Linked DNA regions of Homo sapiens. The protein of the gene in region 1 purifies or fractionates together with the protein of each later gene. This does not show direct contact. Each region holds a gene or a part of one and is shown in the gene's direction. Other genes may lie near its edges.

What was found.
Region 2: the proteins of EDN3 (region 1) and MEGF8 purify together in Homo sapiens (co-immunoprecipitation; 2 studies listed by BioGRID and IntAct, with this or other methods). This does not show direct contact.
Region 3: the proteins of EDN3 (region 1) and COL6A2 purify together in Homo sapiens (co-immunoprecipitation; 2 studies listed by BioGRID and IntAct, with this or other methods). This does not show direct contact.
Region 4: the proteins of EDN3 (region 1) and RSPRY1 purify together in Homo sapiens (co-immunoprecipitation; 2 studies listed by BioGRID and IntAct, with this or other methods). This does not show direct contact.

Annotation. Positions count from the first base shown.
Region 1 is NC_000020.11:59,296,458-59,303,625, forward strand, and holds the start of EDN3 (endothelin-3 isoform 1 preproprotein), read left to right. Parts: upstream 1-4,153; 5' UTR 4,154-4,355; coding exon 4,356-4,407; intron 4,408-4,952; coding exon 4,953-5,265; intron 5,266-7,168. UniProt on the Homo sapiens protein: Endothelins are endothelium-derived vasoconstrictor peptides.
Region 2 is NC_000019.10:42,328,611-42,335,641, forward strand, and holds part of MEGF8 (multiple epidermal growth factor-like domains protein 8 isoform 1 precursor), read left to right. Parts: intron 1-4,994; coding exon 4,995-5,158; intron 5,159-5,396; coding exon 5,397-5,603; intron 5,604-6,424; coding exon 6,425-6,605; intron 6,606-6,686; coding exon 6,687-6,775; intron 6,776-7,031. UniProt on the Homo sapiens protein: Acts as a negative regulator of hedgehog signaling.
Region 3 is NC_000021.9:46,093,815-46,101,126, forward strand, and holds the start of COL6A2 (collagen alpha-2(VI) chain isoform 2C2 precursor), read left to right. Parts: upstream 1-4,297; 5' UTR 4,298-4,359; intron 4,360-7,312. UniProt on the Homo sapiens protein: Collagen VI acts as a cell-binding protein.
Region 4 is NC_000016.10:57,210,329-57,217,328, forward strand, and holds part of RSPRY1 (RING finger and SPRY domain-containing protein 1 isoform 1 precursor), read left to right. Parts: intron 1-2,643; coding exon 2,644-2,770; intron 2,771-3,559; coding exon 3,560-3,618; intron 3,619-5,778; coding exon 5,779-5,845; intron 5,846-6,575; coding exon 6,576-6,707; intron 6,708-7,000.

The DNA of each region.
Region 1 (7,168 bases):
AGGGGTGGTTCCCCAGGGGAAGATGTGGTCCATTACCAGACCTGGAGGGATGGGGATGCTGGCAGGGCAACAACAGCAAATGTCCACAGCAGAAAACACAGGAAAAAACTTCAGGACTCTTTTGAACAAGTTTTGTTGCTTTTGGGATCACCCGATTTCTCTTAGGCTTTGAACACATTTTATTGATAGCACTAAAGTTCAGAATGCATTGTGATCATTTTATTTCACGGAGAATATTATACACAGTGTACCTCATTTGTAAAGCAAGGGATTTGGAGCCTGGCACTTCCTCCAGTGCATCTTAGAATGAACCACGTGCCAGTGAGGGAAGACACAGCTAAGAGTTGGACAACATGGAAAAGCACTTAATTACTTGGTTTTTGAGTAAGTCCAGAGTTCCTGCTGCTGTGGGTGGGTGGGGAGAAGAAATTCCAGCATGATGGAAAACTACATAATGTATTATGTTACTCTCCCTTAAATCCCTTAAATTAAAGGAAAAACAATCTTCAAAGAATCATAAAGCACATAAAGAGACAACTTGAGGGGATGCTTATCTGAGATAAATTGCAACATTCTTAATGGCTGGGTTTTGAATCAAAATGTAAGTGGTAAGGACTCAAAGTATCAGTCGCACATCTGCTGACTTGGAAAAAGTTGAGGAAAAATAAACACAATGACCAAGCCGTGCACTTGGCCGAGCCCCAGCAGTGTCCTGATACATGACTTCTCCTAGGGGCACATTGGATGCTGAGGCAGTGAAGGAGGATCAAGGAATATTGGCAGACGTCTGCGGAGAAGAATGCCTATTCATTCGTGTCCTCTGTAGAGGTCATCATTCCTTTACATGACCTTCCATCAGAGATTATGGAATGGAAACTAGACAGATGGAGAGGCAGTGAGTTGTCAATGATACACAGAAGAAAATGGGAACCATTAAAACCTTGGGTATGAGTTCCAGAGGCAGCGCTGCTTAAGCATTATGAACTCTGTCCCTGGAATCATGTGGAGTCAAATTTGAATCCTGATAGACTGCCACTTAATAGATGCATGGTTGTAGGCTGGTTACTTTGACCTTTTCGAGCCTTAGTTTTTTAATCTGTGAGATGGGGATAATGTTAGCATAAATTTTGTTGAGTTGTCACAAGGGCAAAACAATGATGGAAACCACCAGCTTGCCATTGAGTTACATGAATTGTATATTTCCTTTGCACATTTCTTAGCCTGGAACCCAGAAGGCTTTGTGATCTTGCCAAGTCTCCAAGCCGGCTTTACAATGAATTACTTCATATTGTAATTGAGGTTACCTTTACTTGACTTAAGTGTATTAATTTAGAAAGGAATTTTATGTCAATCACTACCATGCACAGTAAGCCCGATTCCACAGCCTGACAAAGGCTCCAAGCCTATGGCCTGCTATCCCTTTGTACAAGCCTATGGCCTGCTACATTCCTTTTGTATCCCTTTGTTCAAAAATCCCTTTGTACAGCTCTCTCTCTGTTCGAGAGCTGTTAAAGACACATCGAGTCATTGCCCTGGCCATCGTCAGAAGCCAGAAGAACAGTAGGAAAGGGAGCTCTTTCGCTTGAGAGCTGGTGTTGGCGAGTGTCACTGCAGGCTGCTGCCTCAAATCATGGCGCCCGGCTTGCTTTAGGGACCAAGGACAATGCTGCCTCCTCTGATCATCCAGCTGAACACACTGTCTTCTTCTCTTAGCTCTGTGCGGCGTTTTATGTTCTCAGCATCCTGGATCCTTGGCGATCTATTTCTGAACTTCCTTACCTCAACTAGAGTAGAAGACCCAGAGGGCAGGGCCAGCTCCATCCTGGTATTTGGCTAGCACCTCCTGGTGCCTGAGAGGCTCATCCAGGGTTTGTTGATTTTTAGTCCCAGTGAAGACAAGTGGTGGTCGGCTTCAAGCTACTGAAGGCCATAGACCCAGAGAGTGGTCTAAGCAGCCATGATACCTCCTGTGTCTGAACATGGTACCCGGAAACCTCCTCCTACTCCTTTTCTCCTTTTAGCTGATTAGTATATTTTCTATTCCTCCAGCCATCCCCCAATCCAAGAACTTTTTATTTTGTTGAAGATGGAAATTTTAATTCCAAAGAGATAGTAATTATTATGGTCTGAATATTTGTCCTCTCCAGATTTATCTGTTGAAATCCTATCCATGAAGGTGATGATGTCAGGAGGTGGGGCCCTTGAGGGGTGATTAAGTCATGAGGGTTGCAGCCCTCATGAATGGGGTTGGTGTCCTTAGAAAAGAGACCCCCAGAGAGCTGCCTTGACCCTTCCACAACTGAGGATGCAGTGAGAAGTCACCATCCATGATCAGAAATCGAGCCCTTATTAAACACCGAATCTACCAGCACCTTGATCTTGGTTTTCCAGACCCCAAAAATGTGAAAAATAAAACTCTGCGGTTTATCAGCCACCCAGCTTATGGCGTTTTGTTATAGTAGCCCCAACAAACAAAGATAATACTAAAATGATCCAAATTCTAGCCCAGCAGGAACAGAAGATATTGTGAGTCTTGGGTTTTTCTTATTTTCAAAGCATCAAGTGCAAAAACAAACAAATAAACACTTGGATTCAAGGGCTAGGCAGGATGGGATGGGAGTGGGGGGATGGAGAACTTCAGCATCAGCTTCAGTGCTGGAAGCTTGAGTGCTACTCTAGTTACTGCAGCTCTGTACCAATTTACCCAGAGTTTAGTGCTGTAAAACAACCATTTATTATGCTCATGGATTGTGTGGGTGGGAAGTTCGGACAGGGTACAGCGGGACAGCTATTCCTCAGTTGGAAGTCTTGAGGGCTGGGAGCTCAAATCATCGGAAGGCACATTCACTCAGGTCAGTGGCTGACACTGGTGGTCGGCTGGGAGGCCTCGGTTTCTCTCCACGTAGGTTTCTCCAGGTGATCTCTCCAGGTGGGCTTGTTAGGGCTTCCTCCTGGTACAGCAGCTGTGTTCAGAGGACAGGTGTCCTGAGCTATCAAGCCAGGGGGATGTTGTAGCACTCTTTTGGACTGTCCTCAGAAACTGCTCTGGTCACTTCAGCTGCTTTCTAGTTTTCAGAAGCTGGTCGTTAAGGCTAGTAGAGGGCAGGACCCAATTCAACCCCATTTTTTAGAGATGAGGTCTCGCTATGTTGCCCAGGCTGGTCTTGAACTCCCAGGCTCAAGCAATCCATCCACCTTGGCCTCTCAAAGAGCTGGAATTACAGATGTGAAGCACTGCCCCTCCCCCAACCCCATCTGTTATGAAAGGAGGGTCCTTTGACCACAAGTGCCCTGAGAAGTCAGGAGGACTTCCCAGTCTCAGACATTTTTATCTGAGCTGGAGATGGGGACAGCCTCCCACACACAGGACTTGGAAGGCTATGAAGGAAGTAGGGGGCTCTCTTGGGAGGTCATTTCCCTTGGTAGGGACGGTTGTGTGAATGAACTTGGCCTTTAGGGAGAGGAGCCCGACTCTCACCTGAAGCCACCCAACCTGTGCAGATGGCTGAGGAAGCCCTGGACACCACAGGACCGCTAACCCAGGATCTTTGTTGACTTTGCTCCCAGGCCACTGCCCCACACGCAGGCTCTGAACTCCTGGGAGAGGTAGGGAGCCAGCCCGAGGCGTGAGTCAAGAGTGTAAAGTACACCGAGTTCCTTGGCAAGCAGGCTCTTCAAGGGGAAGGTGTCACTCGGGGAACAATGAGAAATGTGTCTTTCCCTCAGCCCCTGATAGAAAAGATAACACCCCTTGAGCACAGCCTTTTCTCATCTGTTCTTGCTCTTGGATGGGGGGCTGCTACTCCGGAGCGGCGAACTGGCGGGCGGGGGTGCGCCTGTGAGTGTGAGCGCGCGTGTGCGTGTGTGCGCGCGCTCTCGTGGCCTTCCGGCAGCTGGCAGCTGTCCCGGCCCCCACCCCACCCTACCCCACCCCACCCAGCCGCGCCACGCCACGCCGCCCCCGCCCCTCGCTGTCCTGGGTGCGCCTCGGGCCGCTGCGCTCCTGGCCAGCTCCCCCCAGCGCCTGGGAGGCGACCCCCAGTGCGCCCGGGTTCAAAGGCCCGGCGAGGCAGTTCCAGCCCCTCTGGGGGGCGGGGAGGCGACGGGGGTGGTGCAGAAGCCAGAAAAGCCCGAGCCACAGCCGGCCAGCTCCGCGCAGGGATGGGCAGCGCGCTCTGAAAGTTTATGACCGCCGCAGCCAACTCCTGGCCGGAGCTGGAGACGCAGCGAGCGATCGGCCGGCCTCGAACCCCCACAGCTGGAGGGCGAGGCCAGCTGTACCCGGCCCCAGTGCCCTTTCGCGGCCACAAGCGGCCGTCCTCCTGGTCCGGTGCTCCGGCGCCTGATCTAGGTTCATGGAGCCGGGGCTGTGGCTCCTTTTCGGGCTCACAGTGACCTCCGCCGCAGGTAAGCGCACGGGGCGGCGCGCCTCTCCTGGCGCGAGCGCACACAAAAGGACCCAGGGCGGGGGACCCGAGGCGCGGAGAAGATGTGCGTCGCGGGGAGCAAACTCTTGCCTGGGCTCTGCACTCGTGAAGACGCCTGGGGGAGGGCTGGGGAGCAGAAGCGGCGCGCAACGACTACCCGCACGGGCTCCGGGAGTTGCAGCCCGCGCACTGGCTGGAGACCTGCTGCCTGGGCCGACTTGGTCAATTTTTCATGAAACTGGGGACTTTTCAGAAAGTTTGCGAACTATTCAGAGGCTGTGCCAAACCCTGGCAAAGTTTGCAGAAAGTATGCAAAATGCATGCAAGTTTTCAACGGGTGCAGATAGCTTGCAAGCTTTTCACAGAGTGTGCAGATAGCTTGGAAACTTTTCAGAAACTGCGCAGAGCTTTGGAAACTTTGCAGACATTTTGCTTGCTCCACCCCCCTCCTCAGGTGTTTGGGGGTGGCGGGTGTTGAGGGGTCTGCACACTCAGCTTAGGAGCCCCTCAATCTGCCTTCTGCAGGATTCGTGCCTTGCTCCCAGTCTGGGGATGCTGGCAGGCGCGGCGTGTCCCAGGCCCCCACTGCAGCCAGATCTGAGGGGGACTGTGAAGAGACTGTGGCTGGCCCTGGCGAGGAGACTGTGGCTGGCCCTGGCGAGGGGACTGTGGCCCCGACAGCACTGCAGGGTCCAAGCCCTGGAAGCCCTGGGCAGGAGCAGGCGGCCGAGGGGGCCCCTGAGCACCACCGATCCAGGCGCTGCACGTGCTTCACCTACAAGGACAAGGAGTGTGTCTACTATTGCCACCTGGACATCATTTGGATCAACACTCCCGAGTAAGTCAGCCTTTTGTGGTGAGGAACGTGGCTCCCGGACCAGGCCCACATCTGCTCATTCCCAGGAGGACCTCACTCCACCCCAGCCCCGCTCAGTTAGCCCAGAGCCTGCCCTGGCACAGCCTTTAGCTCTTGCTGGGGCCTCTTGCCAGCCCAGGTCTCTTCTGCAGGTCAGGGGTGTGACCCACATCCCCCCTGAGGGCCTGGCCCAAGAGAAACTCAATCCTGAGTTTGATCCTGTGGAAGGAGGAGCCCTCCCTCTGAATGAAGTGAACTGACCAGGGGGATTAGATACCTGAGATGTCTCTCTGAGCCTCTTTTCTGAGATAGAGAAAGCCCCGAAAGTTTATCTCATTCCCCAGGGGCCAAGGGGGCTCATACTCACTGTTGACCCCACCAGGATCCAAGGGGTTTAAAATTCCTTGAAAGCATCCTGGTCTCCAGGGAGTCTAAGGGTGGGTTTAGCTGAGCCTGACAGAACCTGCACAGTCCACTCGGGGTAGAATTCCCCTGGGATGGGCTCCCTTCCTTCCTGTGGGCCCCCCTGGATGCCAAGGCAGGGTGAATTCACATCAGCTCGTCCTTGGGCCTTCCACAGGCTGGCTCCAGTCACCCACTGCCATGGTCACAGAGGGCCTTCCCTTCTCTCCTGCAGTCCTTAGAAACTCTCTTACCCTAGGGCCTAGACAGCACCATCCTGAATTTGTCTTGGGGTTCGTCCAGTGGGGAAGTCAGCCTTCTCCTGGGGCCATGTGGAGAGAGTGTGGCTCTGACAGGGGGAGGCTTTGATGACTCCCAGTGTTCAGGGAACCCCTCCTGCAGGCACATCATCTTGCAGGCCATACAGAGGGCTTGACCTTGCCTGGGTCACCAACTCTCTGGCATTGGCTTCCCCATCTCTAAGATCTGGGACTTGGATCAGACACCTCTAAGTTCTGTTCCCTGGGTGTTCATGGGATCTCTTGGGACTCTTGCTTGTACCCTATTAGGGATTCTTAGCTGAGAACTCAGAGATGGTTGTGAATGCAAGCCCCTGGAAGCCTGGAAAGGCACCTTTGCCACCGTGTCCCGGAGCCGTCTTGATTCAGGTTCCTCACGGTCACCTTTATCCCCAAGCCCCATAACCTCTGAGCCCTTGGTAGCAGCTTTCATGGGGCTCACTTACCTACCTTGTGTCATCGGCACCTCAAAAATGAAGTGCAGACGAGGGTAGTAAACCTGAGGGGTGGAATGTCTTTCAGACCAGGGGACAAGACCTCTAATCACATCCATGATAGATCTGGAACATCACCCCACCATGCTTGAAGGGCAGGCAGGGGCTTCACATTGAGCCAGCAGGACACGTGCACAAAGTCCTGCACTCAGAAAGACTCTGGCTCGGCTTAAAGTCCTGCTGTCACTGTCTTGAAATCCTTAATACTTTCTGAACAAAGAGCTGCACATTTGCATTTTCTCCTGGGTCCCATAAATTCTGTAGCTGGTCGTGATACCCTGATTTGCTGGCTGGGCTGTGTCCACCTAGAGGATGGGAGGTGCCTCCCTGTTTCTTTCCCTTTGTGGGGAAGATAGAAGCTGTGAGTGTTGGGCCATCATCAATTGCCTCTTATCCTCAGATAGCGAGGGGAGTCACCTTTCCTTGTAGCCCCTGCACCTTGGCACTGCCCTTTCTGATTCTTATCCTGCATCATTGTGCTCTGATCAAATTCACTTCATAGAATGGAGGGCACTGGGCAGTCACCAGGAACCGAGTTCTTGTCTTGGCCAGAATCCCCAGCTGTGAATCTAGAAGGAGAAAGAAGAAAGCTAATGGAATTACAGACAGGAACCTGGGGTGGTGGGCAGGTGGGAGAGGATTTGGAAACCATCTCTTTCATTCGTTGCCTGTTTACCAAACCCCGGAGCA
Region 2 (7,031 bases), on another chromosome or scaffold:
GATATAAATCACTCTCTGGCCTTAAAGAGTCCCAGACTGGTTAGGCCAGGTGCGGTGGCTCACGCCTGTAATCCCAGCACTTTGGGAGACCAAGTGGGGCGGATCACCTGACGTCAGGCTTTAGAGACCAGCCTGGCCGACATGAAGAAACCCCCTCTCTACTAAAACTACAAAAATTAGCCCTGCGTGGTGGCGCACATCTGTGGTTCCAGCCTGGGTGACAGAGCGAGACTCTACCTCAAAAAAAAAGAAAAAACGTCTCAGACTGGTTGGGAATGGTGGGGCTGGACACAGATATTCAGCCCCCAGTGTGTTCACTGAGACAGTGCTCAGGGCTAAGAAGGAAAGTGGAGGGGTGGGGTGGATGTACCTAGGGAGGAAAGAGGACTGTGCTGCAGATAACAGAGCAGGAGCCACTAAAATAGGGTTCTGAAGCATGCATAGGAGTTTATTGAGTGGGAAAAGGGAGCAAACAGCCTCTATGAAGACGTGAGGGTGGCTGGAGTGTCTCAGGATCCCCATCTAGGTTTGCCTGGTCTTATGGCACTTTTGACTGGGAGGTAATGAGAGCCAGAAGCAGGGGAAGAGGGGCCTTGAATGTCACACTGAGCAGCCTGGCCTTCCCCTTGGGGTTGATGGGCAGCCACAGGAGGTTTTGAGCAGGAGTAGGGCATTGCCCTCAGGTTGGGTGTGGGGCAGACTGGAGACTTGATGAGCTGATCTGGCAAGAGAGGATGAGTTCCTAACTAGGGCAGGGGCTTAGAGGGGTGGAGAGGTGTAGACAGTGCAATCGATGTTTGTGGAGTTTCACCTATAAGACTTGGGGACCAACTGGGTAGATGTTGGGGTGAGGGAGGAGGCTGGGAGACCTCCAGATCCCCCTTGATGATCTTCTGTTCTTACCAATGCCTGTCACTTCTTACCTATAAGAACCAACATCTTCCTCTATCTATTATAAAATAAACAACCAGCCAGGGGCAGTGGCACATGCCTGTAATCCCAGCACTTTGGGAATCTGAGATGCAAGGATTACTCGAGCCCAGGAGTTAGAGACTAGCCTGAACAACATGGTAAGACACTGTCTCTACAAAAAAATTACAAAAGATTAGCTGGGCTTGGTGGGTGGTGGCATGTGCCTATAGCTCCAGCTACCGGCGAGGCTGAGGTGGGCAGATCCCTTGAGCCTAGGAGGCTGAGGTCTCAGTGAGCCGAGATTGCGCTGCTATACTCCAGCCTGGGCAGCAGAGCGAGACCCTGTCTCAGGGAAAAAAAAAAAAAAAAGATAAACAACCAACCTACTAACTTTTGTATTATGTTCATACTTTATCTAGTCCTAGACTTTTTTTTTCCGAGAGAGAATCTTGCTCTGTTGCCCAGGCTGGAGTGCAGTGGCTTGATCTCGGCTCACTGCAGCTTCTGCTTCCCAGGTTCAAGTGATTCTTGTTCCTTGGTTTCCTGAGTAGCTGGGATTACAGGCATGTGCCACCATGCCGGGCTAATTTTTGTATTTTTAGTAGAGATGGTGTTTCTCTATGTTGGCCAGGCTGGTCTCAAACTCCTGGCCTCAAATGATCTGCCCTGGGATTACAGACGTGAGCCACCACGCCCAGCCCAGTCCTAGTCCTTATAACATCCTCATGGATAAGAGGCATCCTGCTTTTGAGCAGGAGGGAGTTTGGGATCAGATTTCTGTCTGGAGTGGTATGGGGGTTGGGTGGAAACAGAAGACCTTCAACTTAGGGAAGAACTTGGGGAGGCAGATGGTGAGCTGGCCTCCAGCAGGCACTTAACAAAGATGTACTTGTGATTCCAGAAACAGAGCTTTATAGTTTGGTTGAGGCTGGTAAGATTCTGGGAGGTCTGGTTGTGTGGCCGTGCTGAATGGTTCTTCTGCATTCCCCAAAGCATGGGTGGGGTCTGTGTCTGATGTCTTGGGGGCTCTGGTTAGAGCCTGAGGGAGAGCTTCCAGCTTTAGTATTCTGTCTTTTATGTATTTCTTCATTTCATCATCCAGCATTTCCTGAGCCTTTGCCAAGCCCGGGTCTGGGCAATGCTGCAGAGGGAATTAGGTCCACATCCAGGCCCTGCTCTATGGGCCTTGTAGGCTGCAGGGAGACAGACCTGGACATAGATGTTCCTGGCCCAGAGGAATGAAGGTTATAATGGGATGTGAGAACCCTGGAGAGGGGGCATCTAACCCAGCTAGGGGGCATCAGGAAGAGGCCTGGTGGTGGGAAGGGATAATATGTTGCAGACAGAGGGAGAAGCTTGTACAAAGGCCCAGCTCCCATTAGAGCTGTAAGCAGTGGGGTGATTTGAGACAAAGCGAGGGTCTGAACAGCAGGTTAGGGACCTGGACTTTCTCCTAGGGTGGTAGGGAGCCATGCAGGGCTTTGGGGCAGGGGAGGGACGGGGCCAGATGTTGAGTTGGGAAGATCAGAGACTCATGTCAGGGGAAGAAGGAGGTTGGATCAGTGGTTCTGGTGAGACAGGATGAGGCCGGGCAGCCAGGGCACACTCTGGCTCTAAGCTGGCAGGCTGGAGTCATCACCTCGTTGAATGTTCACCCCAGCCTTTGTGGGTGGGGGGAATTATCCCCATTTTACAGTCATGGAAACTAAGGCTCAGAGAGCCCATGGAACTGGCCCAGGATCACCCAGCCATTGGCAGTGGTGGCTGAGTGTCTCCAGGATCCAGATAGGCACACTGAGGGTCATGGGGGAAAGGGCTGGCCCAGGGTCCTCCAGCTGGTCATGGGCAGAGCCAGAGCCAGAGCCAGAGCCTAGGCCTCCTAATTTCCCTCACCCAGAGGACTCCCCTGAGCTGCCTGTTCAGAAGGCTTCTCATGTGGGATGTGGAATGAGAGAGGCTACCTGAACTAGGACTGGCAGAGAATAAGACAGTGACAGTGTTAGGGGTAGTGGCACTCTCCACGATATGTGGGCCCCATTGTCAACATTTCTTTTTTTTTTTTTTGAAACAGAGTTTCACTCTTGTCGCCCAGGCTGGAGTGCAATGGCATGATCTCAGCTCACTGTAACCTCTGCCTCCCGGGTTCAAGAATTCTCCTGCCTCAGCCTCCCAAATAGCTGGGATTACAAGCATGTGCCACCATATCCAGCTAATTTTTTGTATTTTTAGTAGAGACGGGGTTTCACCATGTTGGCCAGGCTGGTCTCGAACTCTTGACCTCAAGCGATCCACCCACCTTGGCCTCCCAAAGTGCTGGGATTATAGGCGTGACCCACGGCACCCAGCCTCTTTTTTTTTTTTGAGTCCCCTCTGTCGCCCAGGCTGGAGTGCAGTGGTGCAATCTTGGCTCACTGCAACCTCTGCCTCCCGGGTTCAAGCAATTCTCCTGCCTCAGCCTCCTGAGTAGCTGGGACTTGCACCACCATGCCTGGCTAATTTTTGTATTTTTTTTTAGTAAGAGACAGGGTTTCACCATGTTGGCCAGGCTGTTCTGGAACTCCTGACCTCAGGTGATCCACCTGCCCTGGCCTCTCAAAAGTGCTGGGATTACAGGCGTGAGCCACCCACCCCACTCTGTTGTCACCATTTCGTGTGCATTATTGCTCCTCATGAGGTTGCAGTCAGATGTCAGCTGGGGCTGCAGTCAGCTGAATGTTCACCTTGGCTGGACATCCAGGAAGGTCCCTCCCAGGGCTGGCAGTTGATGCTGGCTGTCAGCTGGAAGCTCAGTTGGGACTGTCAGCCGGAATGCCTGTGTGTGGCCTTTTCTTGTGGCTTTGGCTTTTCTTTGTTTTTTTTTTTGAGACGAAGTCTCGCTCTTGTCCCCCAGGCTAGAGTGCAATGGCACAATCTCGGCTCACTGCAACCTCTGCCTCCCAGGTTCAAGCAATTCTCCTGCCTCAGCCTCCCAAGTAGCTGGGATTACAGGCACCCGCCACCATGCCCAGCTAATTTTTGTATTTTTAGTAGAGACGGGGTTTCGCCATGTTGGCTAGGCTGGTCTCAAACTCCTGTCCTCGTGATCCGCCTGCCTTGGCCTCTCAAAGTGCTGGGATTACAGGTGTGAGCCACCGTGCCCAGCCGGCTTTGGCTTTTCCTATCATGACAGCTGTGTTCTGAGAAGGAGCATTCTACGAGGCCCAGGTGAAAAGTACAAGTCTTCTTATGATCTAGCCTTGGAAGTTTCAGAATTTCTGCTGTTTTTTTATTGGTCAAGCAAGTCACTAAGGCTCTTCCCAGATACGAGAGGCAGGGAATTAACTTTCAATGGCAGGAGTGGCCTATAAGTTTGATTCCACCACAGTACCACTATATCCCACTTTAGAGATGAGGAGACCGATCCAGAGGGGGTGGGTTACTTGGCCAAGATCACACAGCTGGTAGCTATTTGGTGGCAGAGCCAAGACATAAGCTCAGGCAGTCTGGTTCCAGAGTTTGTGCTTGTAACCATCACAATAAGCAGAGGTGAGACTCTGGATGGGGACAGAGGGGAACTATGCCGCTCCAAGGTTAGGCCTCTGTTCTGGGGGAAGAAGCTGGACTCTTCTCTTGCAGCTCTATTCAGCGTGGGCCAGGGGTGGTGTCACGGAGGTGCTCTTCTCACTGGGATTATGACCTTGACCCTCCAGCCTGGACATGTCTGAAACTCAGGCATGGACAGGAAGAGAGAGGCATCAGGAACACTGGATTCTGCTCTGTGTGGCCACTGGGATGGGGTTTTCTCTGTACTTAATTTTCCCATCTGAATGGTGGGAGTGTTCATTCTGATCTCAGGTGACCTTTCTAGAGGTCTGGAATATTATGATTCTTTCTCTGGGCTCCTGTCCCTCTGGCTGTCACAGCCCTTGACTGCCCTAGGTTATGAGACTGGGGGCCCCTTCAAGGCGGGGCCCAGGTCTGACTCATTCTTGAGCCCCCAGCATCACCTGGATCAGGGTTTGGTGTACAATTGTGGGAGGCTGCAGGGAGGTGTGGGGAGAAGGTCCGCTTTAGAGCTTGGTCCCTCTGTGCTCACCTCCCAGCCCCAAGCCCCCAGCACCGGATCCTGCTGGACTTCCTTTTCCTGGACACAGAGTGCACGTATGACTACCTGTTCGTGTATGACGGTGACTCCCCGCGAGGGCCGCTGCTTGCCAGTCTAAGTGGGAGCACCCGACCTCCGCCCATCGAAGCTTCCTCAGGCAAGGTTAGTGGGGATGGGGCCGTGGCAGATACACCGAGGGAAATGGAAGAAGAAAGGAGGGACAGAGAGTCAGTAAGAGGGCATCCAAGAGCAGAGCACAGGGACAAGGGAAGGTGGAGAGAGGCAAAGGAAGGAGATGAGGCTCTGGGTCCCCCAGGGTGGAAGGGGGCAGGAGTGGGCCACCCTCCCAGGACAATCCCCAGGCCCTGCCCACCTTACCCAGCACACCTTGTGCCCGCAGATGCTGCTGCACCTCTTCAGTGATGCCAACTACAACCTGCTGGGCTTTAACGCCTCATTCCGCTTCTCCCTGTGCCCGGGTGGCTGCCAGAGCCACGGGCAGTGCCAGCCACCGGGTGTGTGTGCCTGCGAGCCGGGCTGGGGGGGTCCTGACTGTGGCCTGCAGGAGTGCTCAGCCTACTGTGGCAGCCACGGCACCTGCGCCTCGGTGAGCCGGTCCCCAGCCCTGTTTCCCCTGGGGCCCTGATCTGTGAGCGCAGCCTCCACGCCCATCTCCTAGGTCTGACCTTGCTCCTGCATGAAACTCCCCCCACCACCCCACCCTCCTCCGTGACACCCACTTCCCTCTCCTTCCAGAGCTTGCCCCTCACCTGTTACTCCAACCCCACCCCACCTTCACCTGCAGGGCCTCCCCTGCTGAGGATATCCCACTCTCATCTATACCCCACTCTCATCTGTGAACACCACCCTCCTTCCTCCAGCCAGGCCCAAATCTGTCCTCCCATCCAGCCACTCTGTGTGGCCTTGGACCCCTGCCATGACTTCCAGCCTCGCACCACTGACCTTACGCCGAAGCTGTGTACATCCAGCTTTCAATCTGGATTGCGCTTTGAGCCCTCCCCGCCTTGACCTCCCCAGATCTGAGCTCTTTCAGTCCAGGCTGAATGTCAACTACGCTGTCTGTATTCTCCCAGCCTGCCGTCTTTCTGTCTTTTCTCCTTTTTCTCTGTGCATCTTTTCCTTTTTCTGTTGGTCTTCTTTTTTCCGTCTGTCTGCTTCCTTCTGATTGTTTCTCTTTGTCTCTTGTTTCTGTCTGACAGTTTGCCTTTCCCCTCTTCCTGTCTCTCTCTGTCTCCCTTTCTCTCTCTCTCTTTCCTTTTCCATCCTCTCCCTTCCTGTCTGTCTCTTTCTCTCTCCCTTTGTGCCCTGTCTGTCTCATTCTGCCTCTTTTCCTCTCTGTGTCTCCTTTGTCTCTCTGTCCTTGTCTCTCCCTCTCTTATCTCTGCCTTTATGTCTCCTTTCCCGCAGCCCCTGGGACCATGCCGCTGTGAGCCTGGCTTCTTGGGACGTGCCTGTGACCTGCACCTGTGGGAGAACCAGGGGGCTGGGTGGTGGCACAACGTGAGTGCCAGGGACCCTGCCTTCTCTGCCCGTATTGGGGCAGCTGGCGCCTTCCTGTCCCCACCAGGGCTGCTGGCAGTTTTCGGAGGTGAGCAGATGGGGCGAGTATCTGGGATCTGGAGGCCCGGCAGCCTATGGCCAGGGCATGAGACTATCCACCCCTCCACAGGCCAGGACCTCAACAATGCCCTGGGTGACCTCGTCCTATACAACTTCTCCGCCAACACCTGGGAGTCTTGGGACCTGAGTCCTGCCCCGGTATGGACCCCTCCTCTGCCCTGGAGGAGCCTTTCCACTCAATCAGACCCAGCCGGGGACCCCCGGAATGATCCCCTATCACCTAGTGCTCCCACAGTTCCTGCAGCTTGATATAGGAACCTACTTCTCCCTGTTTCTGCCTTTTCTCTCCGGTTTTCTTTTTTCTTCTTCCTCTTCCTTTATCTGCCTTTGTGCATCTTATTTTTCCATGTGTCTCCTGTTGCTCAATCTGTCTCTGTTTTCGTCTGTCTGACTT
Region 3 (7,312 bases), on another chromosome or scaffold:
GCACGCTGGGGTTCTTGGAGAGGGGTGTGTGGCTGCCAGGGGACTACTGCTGTCATTGCCATCTGCAGAGACAAACAGAAACCCAACACGGCAGCCATCACTGGGGCCCCTTCATGGGAGGGATAGGGTGGAAATTGCAGGTCCCAGCAAGGCCTCAAAGCAAGTGCCCAGCCTCCCCTGATCAGTCCAACCTGAAGCCAGGTCCTGGTGTGCACAGAGATGCACGGCTGGGCTGCCCCACCTGCTTGGGCCACAGGAAGCATTTCTCTAAAGGTGAGCAGCTTCCTCTGCAGGTGACACGGCCTCCACCCAAACCCAGAGGCTCTGGCTCTCCCACTGCGGCTTGCCGCAGCCCCACACTTGCCTGCTCCCACACTGACACCTCCAACACCACAGGGGCTGCTGGGTCACGTGGCCCAGATGGCAGGGCTGCTCAGACAGTCATTTTCTGCTCCTGGCCGCCTCGAAGCTGGCAGCCTCCATGTCAGCCAAGCCGTGGGTCAGAGCAGTGCCCCCAGGAATTAAATATGTTGCCTTCAGAACCCAAAAAGGCCTGTCAGGCCCTGTGCTTCCTCCTTTGAAGTAGGGGATGCAAGATGTAGCAATTTCTCTTTTACTTTAGAGGATGTCCTGGTATGAACCTGATCACTGGTGCCCTAAAAACTTCCATGAAGTTAGGTCCCTGAATCCTCGGAGTTCACCTCCCACCCACAGATGCAAATGTGTCTCATAAGGCCTCTAGCTCATGACCCTCCTGTTCCTCCTCCTGCCCATTATGTCGTCACTGTAATGGATCAGTGTGGTGTCCGGTGCACTGCTCAGGTGCCCAGATCTTTTCAGGCAATATTAGGACAGAGGACAGAGTTAGCGTGGCCCTGCACTAAACTGGGAATGAGTATTGTTGTTCCTCCCATGTAAATGCAAACTGTTTCCGATCCTCTTTTCTAATTGGAATAGAAAAGAATGCAATGGCCAATCACTGGCCTCATTAATCTGCTACGATGATACGTCTGACACAGCAGATGCAACTGGAGCTACTACCGGGTTCAGGCTAAGTGGTCTGGCGTCACTTTCTAGGATCCATCAGTCTTTGCAATGACCAGGCCAGAGAATTAGACACGACAGTCCACCACCCTCGCCTCCGTGAGGCCTTTAACGGTGGTGCCATCCTCCCAGGATGCAACGTGGTTTGTGATTTACTCTCTTGGCCATGGAAAGGGGACTTCCCCACTATGATGTCTGTCACCACACAGGCCTGGGATCCAATATATGGCTACTCCAGCCACCAAGTACATAAATTATAATTACATACTCAGGGGGCAGGGAAGCGGCCACTGGATGGTCTTCTGGCCCAGGGGTCTCACTGTGCCCAACACTTTAGCCAGGATTCCTTTTTATTACCTGGCCCCGTCAGCCCCTTCTCTAACAGGGAGGCCACAGCGACACTTTTGGCCTCCAGTATCAAGGTCCACTCACATCCCGCGTCCATTTGTCCTCAAAATCTCTGGATTTTCCCAGCGTGCAGCCAGCTGAGTGAGTGACAGCGGGATTCTACAGAACATCCTTGTCAAGGTATTGCCTGGTCCTTCCTTCTGGTGACCTGGCCACCTCTGCAATCAATGGTTCCAGACAGGAAATTAGCTCAAGTCCAGGAATGGAGTAGGGAACCACGATATTTTACTGGAGTCCCCGCCCTCGGCCTCTTTCTTCCTTCCTCTGCCGTCCGCCAGGGCGGCTTGGCTCAACATGACCCATCGCTTTCTCCAGGCTTCTGGGAGCCATCCCAGAATCATCTTTGACCCACGACCTGCAGAACTTGCCAGGTAACTAATCCTATGTGCCAAGCAAGTGCCTCCGCCTCAATAGTTCTTCTGTCCCCCTGGATAAAGCACCCTGGAAATCTAATACCGGGGGTGTTCCCTGGCTCCTGCAGGCACATGCTGGCTGCCTCGTGCAGTTCCTGGACATGCAACCTCTCTACTCCCTGGTCAGGCCTAGCAGGTCCCCATCCAGGTTACCCTGGACTTTCTCCCTAGTCACTGCTGGCAGCCAAGAGACAAGGTGGAGCAGCCCCCAGTGAGGGCACCTGCTGCTCTGGTAGGGGAGGCCCCTGGAGCATCTTCCAGCACAGAGGAAGTGCTGGCTTCCAAGGGCAGGAGGGGCCCCTCTGCAAGCTCTGAGGGGACAGGGGTCTGCAGGGCCATGCCCTCAGGGCTTCCACCTGGATGTCTCAGCCCATGTTTCAGGGTCCCAGATTTTCCCAACCGGGGTCCAGACCTTCACATAGGCCAGCCGTGGCCAGGCATCAAAACATGCCTAGAGCTAGGTGGTCCCCACAGTCACTGTCGGCTCCTCAGCCATACTGGTTCTACCTCTGCCAAACATGGGACTCCTTTTCAGCAACCAGAGAGGCCCTTTGTTCTCACACCAAGCCTGATGGGCAACCGTGGGTAACGTCGCAATCTCCATTCATCCCTCTGTGGAGCATCAACCCCACTCCCCCCATGCACTGAAAGGGGGAAACTGCCACACCCACAAGGCCTCCCCTTCCACCAGGAAAACGTCCCAGATCACTCTTGGTGAAAACATTTAACAATTGGGGCCCTAACTTTGTGCCAAAGATTACCCATATCCCCACATCAACCAGAATGGTGTCCTCGGTGTTGGCCGGGAAACGGCCACCGCACCAGCTGAGTCTCAGGCCCCTCCTGCACCACTTGTGTTAATTGGGGTCTTCCAAGAGGCAGGTGCCATGGAAGCTCTGACGTGACTGGAGATTTATCAGTGCAATGTCTGTGAAGGATGCTGGGGGGGTGGCCAAAGAGGACGGAAGCCTCAGACCACAGGTGAGACCCCTGTGAAGGAGATACGGGGAGCCTTGGCCAGCACGTGCCCCTAGACAGTGCTGGCCAGGCCGAGGGAGAACTTCTGGAGCCAAGGTAACCCCTAAAGGATTCTGGTCTTGTGAGGAGGGGCCTGGCTTCCCCCTGGGAGCTGCTGGCTTGGAAGCAGGAGGCATTGCCCAGGTGAGAGTTCGGCATGGACCCAGGGGAGTGGCACACGGTGCCCGCCGTCAGCTGTGCTCAGGAGCAGCAGGCAGGAGCCCTGGACTCATGGCTACCATGTGGCTGCCACACTCAGGCACACTTAGGCACATACACTCACACTCAGGCACACTTAGACACACACATTCACACTCAACCTCAGACGCAGACACACACCACACACTCACAGATGCACACAGTCTCAGACACAGACACACACCACACACAGATACACACACCACAGACTCAAACTCAGTCTCAGACACAGACACACACCACACACTCAGATGCACACACCACACACACTCAGTCTCAGACACACACACACACCACATTTGCAAACCTGCTCATCAGAAGAGGGACCTCGCCCCCAGCCGCTCCGCCACCTTCCAGGACAGCTCTGAAGGGAGCCCTGTCCCGGAGCCCAGGGACCTCTCCCCAACCCGGCTGCGCCTCACCTCAAGGAGGAACCCCGGCCCTGGCTGGGGGACTGTGACCAGGGTGGGGAGTGGGGACCCCAGACAGAGCCCTACCAGGGACCCCTGTCACTCTGTCCCCGGCTGGGCTCAGGTGGGGACCTCACGGTGGTCCCAGGGCCCAGCACCAAGCCCACCTGTGGTTTCCAGCGGGAAAGGGGTGGCAGGGGTGGCTCGCCGCATGCCCAGGCTCTGCCCCAACCTCCGCGCCCAGGCTCTGCTGTCCCTGCCCTCCCGGCTCCCCACCCTCAGGCCCCAGGAGCGGCAGTTTCTGCAGGAGCTCCTGACCCGGGGCCTCTCGCGGGAGGCCTGAGCAAGCCGGACACAGGACACGGGGTAGGGGAGGGGTCGGGGGGCTGATGGGGGGAACCCTGCACCCCCCAGGGCAGCTGCTACCAAGGGGCGAGTCCCAGGGCCCCCGTCGGCCCTGCGTGCGGGGCGCGGTCCCCAACACCCAGGGCCCCGGAGGCGGACACAGCCCCAGCCAGGTCGTCCGGGAAATGGGGCGGGGGCGACGGGCGGCCGGGCCCGGGACGCGAAGTCCGAGCAGCAGCGGGCAGGGGCTGGCGGGGGAGCTCGGCCCGGGCTGCAGGGGGGTCCCCACCCTCTCCACCTCCTCCAGCCTCCCGCCCTCGAGGGTCCCCGCTTCCCTCCCATCCCCCTCCCGTGCCCCCGGCCCCCTCCTCCCATCCGCGGGGCCGCAGCGCTTCCTGGCGGCGGGGCGGGTCAGGCCGGCGGGGCGGGGTATAAAGGGGGCGGCGCCGGCCGCGGTTCCCTCCCTGCTGCTTACTCGGCGCCCGCGCCTCGGGCCGTCGGGAGCGGAGCCTCCTCGGGACCAGGTGAGCGCCTCCCGGACCCCGCACCCTGGAAGCCGCTCGGCCCGCGGGGGGTGACCCCGAGTCCTGGGAAGGCGGCGGCGGCGGCTCCGTCCCTCGGGTCCCCGGGAAGGGGGACTCCAGCCCCAGGGACGGCGGGGGGCTCGGCGGGTTCGGGGCTCCTCCTCGCGGGGCTGGGGCCGCGCCTGCCCCTGTGGCTCCGCGTCTCTGGGTCCGACCCTCGGGCGCGCGACTTGGGGCCACCTCCCCGCGGCCTCCTCTGGGGCGGAGCCGGCCTGGGCGGGGTGGGGGGGTCCCTGTCTGCGCCCGAGCTCGGTGCTGGGACCCCCGCTCCCGAGACGACCCCGGCACCGCACGCCCCGCCAGGCCCCGCGTCTGCGAGCGGTTCGGGTCCGGCTCCGGCCCGCGGGGAAGACGCCCCGGCTGGCTGGGACCTCCGGGGGCGCAGGGCCTCTCCCCGGGCCGGACGGAAGGGGCGGCGGGGCGGGGGGAGGAGGGGCTTTCGGTGCCCGAGGGCGGGACTGGGCGGGGAGGGGACGCGGGTGGCCCCGACGCCCCATCGCTGCGCCCCTCCCGGCCTGGAGCCCACCAGGGCCCCGCCAGGCCCAGGAGAAGCTGCAGACGGAGGCGGCTCCCCAGGGCGGCGGGACCCGGGCTGACAGCGACCCGCAGCCCCTGCCGGGCCGCCCACACCCGCCCTGGGACTCCGCCGGGGCGCTGGTGGAACCGCTGGGCCTGGGTCTCCACTGCTGGCAACCGAACGGATCGGCCCTCTGTGGAGCCGCAGGTGTGCGGGCGAGCGGCGCCCATCCGGGCTGTGCCAGCAGAACCCCGGTGCCCGCGCCTAGGACGCCCCTGGAGAAGGGACCTTCCCTTTGGGGTCGGAACCCAGAAAGGAGGGGCCTGCGATCCGCGGAGCTCCTTGTTCTTGGGATAACACAGCTCTGGCTTGGAGGCCCCCTTGCACTTCGACTCTGGTGATTATTTCAAGAAAGGCCAGACCGGGCACGGTGGCTCACGCCTGTAATCCCAACACTTGGGGAGGCCGAGGCGGGCAGATCACCTGAGGTCAGGAGTTCGAGACCAGCCTGGCCAACAGGGTGAAACCCCGTCTCTACTAAAAATACAAAAAAAAATTAGCCGGGCGTGGTGGCAGGCACCTGTAATCCCAGCTAATCGGGAGGCTGAGGCAGGAGAAAATCACTTGAACCTGGGAGGCGGAGGCTGCAGTGAGCTGAGATCGCGCCACTGCACTCCAGCCTGGGTGAGGGAGCGAGACTGTCTCAAAAAAAAAAAAAAAAAAAAAAAAAAAGGAAAGAAAGGCCCGGTGAGATGCTTTCTCTTAAACACGGCCCTGCACGTTGAGTTGCTGCCTCCTGTGGCCTATTTCACGTTTATGCAAAGTCGGGCGCCTGATGCGGGGCTCACCCGCCACAAGCAGGGGTCCTGGTGCTGCTCATGGAAGGGGCCCTACCCAGCCCGCGGGGCACTGGCTGGGACGGGGCTGCCCAGGTCCGCCCAGGATCCAAACACCCAGCCCCGCCCAGCGGCCCTTCCTGGCCTGCAGTGGAGGCTGTAATGGGCAGGGGTGGTGGGAATCCCAGCTCACAGGGCGCCTGCTCTTAGAAGGGCGGCATCTGGGTCCAGAGGTCAGAAACGTCAGATGCCCATCCCAGAAGTGGCGGGGAACCTGTCTCCACAATGGATAGCAGCACTGTCTTTTTTTTTTTTTTTTTTTTTTTCTCATTTCATAGATAAGGAATGATGCCTTGTTGGGGGGTTTGTTCTGCATGTCTTTGGTTTTTGTGCAGTACAAGGCTATTTGGGCTGTTTGATCACTGACCGTGTGTAGTGATGTGCATTGCCTGGTTGTGATGTCCCCATGTTCCTAATGGATGTTCGCTTTTTGGGTTTTTTTGGTTTTTTGTTTGTTTGTTTGTTTTTTGAGACAGGGTCTTGCTCTGTCACCCAGGCTGGAGTGTGGTGGTGCTATCACTGCTCACTGCAATCTGCACATCCCTGGCTCAAGCGAGCCTCCACCTCAGCCTCCGAGTAGCGGGGACTACAGGCATGCACCACTGTGCCCAGCTAATTTTCTTTTAAGAGACGGGGTCTCACTATGTTGCCCAGGCCATGGATGTGTTTGTTTGTTTGTTTGTTTGGGGTGTTTGGGGGGTTTTTTCTTTTTTTATTGATTTGAAAAAGCTTTATTTTCCCGAATTTTTTATTGTGGTATACAATATAAAATGTACTGTCTTAACCATTTTTAAGTGTGCAGCTAGTTCAGCGACAGTAAGTACATTCATAGTGTTGTGTAGCCATCACCAAGGTCCATCTCCGGAACTCTTTTCCTCTTGTCAAACTGAAGCCCATGGAGCACCAACTCGCATCACCCCTTCCCTCCCCTGGCAGCCACCATCCTACTTTATGTTTCCAGGAATTTGGCCATTTAGGTGACTCATATGAGTGAAATCGTATGAAATGTCTCCTTTTGTGACTGGCTTATTTCACGTGGCTTAATGTCCTCCAGATTGATCCACACTGTAACGTATGTCAGCATTCCCTTCCTTTGTAAGGCTGAGCAGTATTCCACTGCATGCATGCCCTGCATTTTGTTTACCCATTCGTCTGTTGCTGGACACTTGTGTTGCTTCCACGTTTGAGCTACTGTGAATGATGTGGCCATGAACACACCACACAGATACCTCTTGGAGATCCCACTTTCACTTCTTTTGAGTATGTTCCCAGAAGTGGAAATGTGGATCATTTGATTTTTTCATTTTTTTGAGAATTAATTGCCTCACTGTTTCCCACGGTGGCTGCACCATTTTGCTTTCCTGCCAACAGTGCACAAGGGTCCAGTTTCTCCACATCTGCACCAACAGGTGTCATTTTCCGGGTTCGCTTGGTTTTTTTTAAATGTTAACCATCCTAATGGGTGTGAGGTGGTATCTCA
Region 4 (7,000 bases), on another chromosome or scaffold:
CTTGGCTTCTCAAAGTGTTGGGATTATACGTGTAAGCCACTGTGCCCAGCCTAGGTTAAAATTTTTTAAATGTTAAAAATAGAAGCATTTAAGGCTGGGCGCGGTGGTTCACGCCTGTAATCCTAGCACTTTGGGAGGCTGAGGTGGGTGGATCACCTGAGGTCAGGAGTTCGAGACCAGCCTGAACAGCATGGTGAAACCCCGTCTCTACTAAAATACCCCGTCTCTACTAAAAATCAGCCGGGAGTGGTGGCAGGCACCTGTAATCCCAGTACTCAGGAGGCTGAGGCACGAGAATTGTTTGAACCTGGGAGGCAATGGTTGCAGTGAGCTGAGATTGTGCTACTGCACTCCAGCCTGGGCGACAAAGCGAAACTCTGTCTCAAAAAAAAAAAAAGAAGCATTTAGGTTGGGCGCAGTGGCTCACACTTGTAATCTCAACACTTTGGGAGGCCAAAGCAGGCAGATTGTTTGAGTCCAGGAGTTCAAGACCAGCCTGGCAACATGGTGAAACCCTGTTTCTACAAAAAAATCCAAAAGTTAACAGGGTAACGTGGTGCATGCCTATAGTCCCAGCTGCTCAGGAGGCTGAGGTGGGAGGATCACTTGCAATCTGGAGGTCGAGATTGCAGTGAGACAAGATGGCGTTATTGCACTCCAGCCTGGTTAAAAAAAGAAGTATTTGTATCTCAGGTGGCGATCTTTATTCAGAAGCTAGAAGAGAATGTTGAGTTGCTTCGCTGATTTTCTTATCTTTCTCTAAGCAATTTCCTCATAACAAAAGTTTTAAGAATGTTTTTTATTAAGAGGAAAAACTGGGCTGAATGTACTGGCTCATGCCTGTGATCCCTGCACTTTGGGAGACCAAGGCAGGAGGATCAGTTAAGCTCAGGAGTTTGATACCAGCCTGAACAACATAGTGAGACCTTGTCTCTGTTAAAAAAAAAAAAAAAAAAGAAAGCCAGGCACGGTGGCTCATGCCTGTAATCCCAACACTTTGGGAGGCCAAGGCAGACAGATCACTTGAGGTCAGGAGTTCAAGACCAGCCTGGCCAACATGGTGAAACCTCATCTCTACTAAAAATACAAAAATTAGCCAGCACGATGGCGTGCACCTGTAATCCCAGCTACTTAGGAGGCTGAGGCAGGAGAATCACTTGAACTCGGAAGGTGGAGGCTGCAGTGAGCTGAGATTGCACCACTGCACTTCAGCCTGGGCGACAGAGTGAGACTCCATCTCAACAACAACAACAAAAAAAAGTTAAAACTGAAAGCACTTTTGAATCTTACTCAAATGTATTAATGATTAGTGTAACATTGGTTATCCTTTACATAGAACAAAAGCATCGAACTTTCATTGCTTTCCCATGTGTTTTACAGAGTCCTTTTTTTTTTTCTTTTTTTCTTCTTTTGGATTCTGGCATCTTTCATTTTTAAGATGGAGTCTTGCTATGTTGCCCAGACTGGTCTCAAACTCCTGGGCTCAAGCATCCTCCCACCTTGGCCTCCCAAAGTGCTGGGATTACAGGCATGAGCCACTGTGCCCAGCCTCAATTCTGGCATTTTCATTCATCTGTTTAAGCCCAGTGCAGAAAAACATTGTGGACGGAAGGGGAAAGTCTTTAGCGTAGTCACCAATGAATTGACCTTTGCCTAGGCTTATAAGAGCTGCCTGTTTCAATTTGCCTTCAACTCTGTTGGGGCAGGGTGCAGTGGTTCATGCCTATAATCCCAAAACTTTTGGGGGCTGAAGCAGGAGGATCACTTAAGGCCAGGAGTTCAAGACCAGCCTGGGCAACATAATGAGATTCCCATCTCTACAGAAAATTAAAATTATCTGGGCACTGTGACATGTGCCGGTAGTCCCAGCTACGAGGGAGGCTGAAGTGGGAGGATCACTTGAGCCCAGGAGGTAAAGGCTACAGTGAGCCATGATCACTTCACTGCACAGCAGCCTGGGAAACAGAGCAAGAGCAAAAAGAAAAGAAGAAAACTCTGCTGGGATTTGTTTTTGCTTAGTAAAACTTTTTTTAAAGTAACTTTTTACTTCAACATCACCAGCCTTTAATGTTTTCATAATGGCATCTGAGTGGGTTTAATCTGTTTAGTGATTCAAGAATATGTAGCATATATTTGATACAACTTAAGCATTCTGAATGAAGTGGAATCTAGTAAGTCATGTAAGGAGACTTTCAGGTTGATCAGATATTTCCCATCAATGATATCATTAGGGTACATTGCATAATTTTTATATGGTCATTCTGAGTTTATTTAACACCTGGTTATAGCTCCCCCCACCCCCCTGAGACGGAGCCTTGCTCTGTCGTCCAGGCTGGAGTGCAGTGGCACGATCTCGGCTCACTGCAACCTCTACCTCCCAGGTTCAAGTGATTCTCCTGCCTAAGCCTCCTGAGTAGCTGGGATTACAGGCGCGCACCACCACACCTGGCTAATTTTTGTATTCTTAGTAGAGATGGGGTTTCACCATGTTGGCCAGGCTGGTGTCGAACTCTTGACCTTGTGGTCCGCCCGCCTCGGCCTCCCAAAGTGCTGGTTATAGCTTTTGTCTCAAAAAAAAAATGAGCCTGGGAAAACAACCTGTGTAGTATATGGGTCAAACCCACTTGTACTTTTTTGTTTTAGGATGCACTCCAGAAATTGACTGAAATTCTCAATTTAAATGGAGAAGTAGCTTGCCAGGACTCAAGCCATCCTGCCAAACACAGGAACACATCTGCAGTCCTAGGCTGCTTGGCCGAGAAACTAGCAGGTAACTTTGGGACACTCCACAGTGGAAGATCTTAAGTTGTTTGACATTAAAGGGAAATTTGTACTGTATGTCTTTGATCAAACTGCTATACCAGAAAGAAATCTCTTAAAAATGATATTGAGAGACATAGACTAACTGGAAGAAAATTACTGAAAGGCTACAGAGGTGAATGCAATTTAATTTAGCTTTGTGGATTTTCAGGGGAAATTTTAAAAGAAAAAAGTTGTGCTTATTTGCTTTAAGAATAAGGAGCGAGGAAAAGAAAAAAGGGAGAAAAGCTAAATTCAGCATAACAAAGATATGTATGTGTGTATACAATATATAATTTGCATATATACACACTTTATAAAGTTTAGCTCGATTATGAAGACATACAAGGTAGAGGGAGAGGAAAAGGAACTTCTGGTTGGAGCAGTTCCTGAGAAGCAGGTATTTAATTTGTTTATGAATGTTACCCATTTTAAGAAAGTTAACAGCAAAGTACAGGGGCATAGCTCAGCTACTTACATCACGTAATGTGGAAGAAACAATGGATTAGAAATCAGAACATGTGGCTACTGGTTTGGACTCTCCCATGTGCTTGCCAAGTGCCCTGGAGTTAGTTGCTTAATTCTGTGGGCTCACTTGCTTAACTGTGAAATGGAGCTAGTACTATTTTCTACCTCAGAGCAGGAGGCTTTAATAAGATAATGTGCATGAAAGAGTTCTACCAAAACAATTTGATTGTTACCAGTGATTTAAAATAATCTGGCATTTTAATTATATCAAGTGTTTGTTGTATTTGTCTAGGTCCTGCAAGTATAGGTTTACTTAGCCCAGGAATACTGGAATACTTGCTACAGTGTCTGGTAAGTGAGACATCAAAACTATTTATTCTTAGTCATCTAGAAGTGGGCATCATCTAGAACTGTGCATTTTCTCAAATTGCTGGCATAGCCACTGGCACAGAGAATGGAATCAATTGTAAATTTTATTTGCAGGTGTTTCCCGAGTGCTTATTTATTCCCTCCTATGTTTAAAAAAGAGAGTGGGATTGGAATTTATCCCAACCAGCAAAAACAGCTGAGTTAGTCTGGTTTTAAATTTAGTCATAAGATAGCTGCTATGATTGGCTCTTTTGCATGTTCCTTGAGTTTGCCAAATGGTAATAGGGACCTCCACAGTAGAAACAATTACATGGCGTTCCAAGCCAGGAGGCCATCAAGTCAGATTCCCAGTATATATAAATCTCTACTCCTCCCTGCCCTCCCCCTCACTGCTACTCTTAAAACTGTTGTCACTGGAATATTTAATATATTGTCTATGAAGCTTCTGGTTTGCTGAGGCTGTGCCCTCAGATCTCTCATAGTTCTGGCCTGTGGTCTTGAATGGTCTGTATTTTTAAAAGTTATTTTTGTAGGCCTAGTGAGCATTGGCCCTTTTCAAAACTCTGGTCTGAAAACCCTTATTTGTCAATACCCACTGATACGTGCTTAAAACACTTACCTTACTCTCAATGAGCACTCTGGGGATACAACATGGCAGTCCTATGATTTCAAGAGGTTTATTGGTTAGTTGAGGAAACAAAACTACTCAGACAAGGTAATTAGCCTCCATTTTATCACAGGATGTGATCATGGGAGAAAGTACTTCATCAAGACTAAATGAGGGCCGGGCACGGTGGCTCATGCCTATAAGCCCGGCATTTTGGGAGGCTGAGGTGGGCTGGTCACCTGAGGTCAGGAGTTCAAGACCAGCCTGGCCAACATGGCGAAACCTGGTCCCTACTAAAAATACAAAAATTAGCTGGGCATGGTGGCATGTGTGTGTAGTCCCAGCTACTCAGGAGGCTGAGGCAGGAATTCACTTGAACCCAGAAGGCAGAGATTACAGTTAGCTGAGATCTCACCACTGCCCTCCAGCCTGGGCGACAGAGCGAGACTCCATCTCAAAAAAAAAAAAAGACTAAATGAGAAGGTGGGTGGTATGGGTAATGAGAGCCGGGGTGTCATGAAAGTCAGACTTCCTGATGAAGGTGGACCCTCAGCTGGGTCATGCTATAGATGAGGATTTTATTGTGCCCAGAGGAGGGAAAAAATTGGTTTCTTAGCTAAGGGAACATCACAGGCAGAAGTCCAGAGACAGAGAATTGTCTGATGAGAGAAGACAGTGTTCAGAGATAGGACACAGACTGAGTAGCCAGCTAGAAAGGGTTTAGGGCCTGAAAAGCCAGGCAGAGGGATTTAGATGGATATGAGAAGAAATAGAATGCTGAATAGGCTTTCCAGCAGCAGGGATGGTGGTTATGTGAGGTTTCCAGAACTTAGGAGGTACCAGGGAAGTCAGTGGGAATCATCTGATGTTCTGGAGCTCCTCTGGTGGCTCCCAATGTAGCAGTAGGGAAAGCACAGCTATGAGAAGGTGTCATGTTCAACAGATAGACCTTTCCTTAAAGGGGAACTCATGTGACATGAGCTTAAATGTAACTAAAAGAGTTCACTTGTTGCTTTCTCCTGTCTACCATCAGCATTTGTAGAATTCCTTTCAGGGAACAGCTTAAAAACTGAGCCATTAATTGTTAATTTAATTATTTATAATTTTGCAACTTGTTAGTGATAAGTGGTTCTTTTTAGGATTCTAAGTAAAATATCATTTTTAGTTTATAATTCTAGGTTTCTGTTTGGCTTGCATAAATGAATGTGAGAATGAATATTTTATTTAACAAAGCCCTAATGTAAGTTTTATTAAGTAAAATAACATAGTGTATTTAACAGGATACTTTTGAAATTTCCAAATCTATAAATTAACCTAGTGACTTTAAGAAAAAAATACAAGATTAAGAGAGCCTGTCCAGTTCATTACTAACATTATTAGCCAAATGGATAATTGAGAACTTGAATGAATGAAACTTTTCTGACCACTCGAAAAAACATCTAGCACATATTGGGCAAGGAAATGAAACTGATAACTTGCCACCTCTGCAGGGGAATGATTTTTTTTTTTTTTTTTTATCTTTTGTTGTTTTTCAGAAGTTACAGTCCCACCCCACAGTCATGCTTTTTGCACTTATCGCACTGGAAAAGTTTGCACAGACAAGTAGGTATAGTGACTTCTTGCACTAATGATCTTCTGTATTGGTTGTTAAAAATTTTATTTTTCTTAGTTACTGGATAAGCCTACACTTTGAACCCCATCAGATGGGCATACATTCTGTTTTCATCTGGATAGACACGTTAAAGCCAATGAAGTATAACAGGGACAAAGGCAAGGATTTTCTCACCTAAGAATCAAAACTTGGTAACCATGTTTACTCACTTTTTATAGCCAAAAATTTAGTGATGTGATTGCTAGTTTCTAGAAAAAAGTATGGTGGCTCTTGCCCATAATCCCAGCACTTTGGGAAGCTAAGGCCAGAGCATTGCTTCAGGCCAGGAATTCGAGACCAGGGTGGGCAGCATAGCAAGACTCAATCTCTACAAAAAATTTTAAAAAATCAGCCAGGCATGGTGGCATGCACCTATGTTCCTAGCTACTTGGGATGCTGAGGCGGGGGGATCACTTGAGCCCAGTAGTTCAAGGTTACAGTGATCCATAGTTGTGCCACTGCACTCCAGCCTAGGCAACAGAGTGAGACCCTGTGACTAAAAAAAAGGAAAACAAAATAGTCAAAGCTCTTTGGCTATGTTTTCCCTAGAAATTTTAATTGAAGTCTAATCTAGTCTCCAATTCTTTAATTGCCTCTTCCCCCTCCTTAGCAATACTAATTTGCTGAGCAAATCATTCTACCCTTTCATTGTTAATTCAAGGATTATGTCTTTCCAAACAGGTGAAAATAAATTGACTATTTCTGAATCCAGTATTAGTGACCGGCTTGTCACATTGGAGTCCTGGGCTAATGATCCTGATTATCTGAAACGTCAAGTTGGTTTCTGTGCCCAGTGGAGCTTAGACAATCTCTGTAAGTGGGAGTTGTCCTTTATTAAAATGTCCGTTTCCATTTCCAGACTCATTTCTTTCATAGGCTCACTGGTCTTCCTTTTGCAATGGTAAGTATGAGTCCTCATAAGGACCTCTACTGGCAGGTTGGATATATTCTAGCAGAAAAGTATCCTAGAGACCCTTTAGACAAGAATTACATGGTATGCTTCTAATTTCAGCATTTTCCTGTTCAAAAACCTTTACTGGCACCCAGTTTCCTGCTGCATCAAAGCCCTTAATTATATGGCACTGTCTAACCAGCTCTTTCCAACA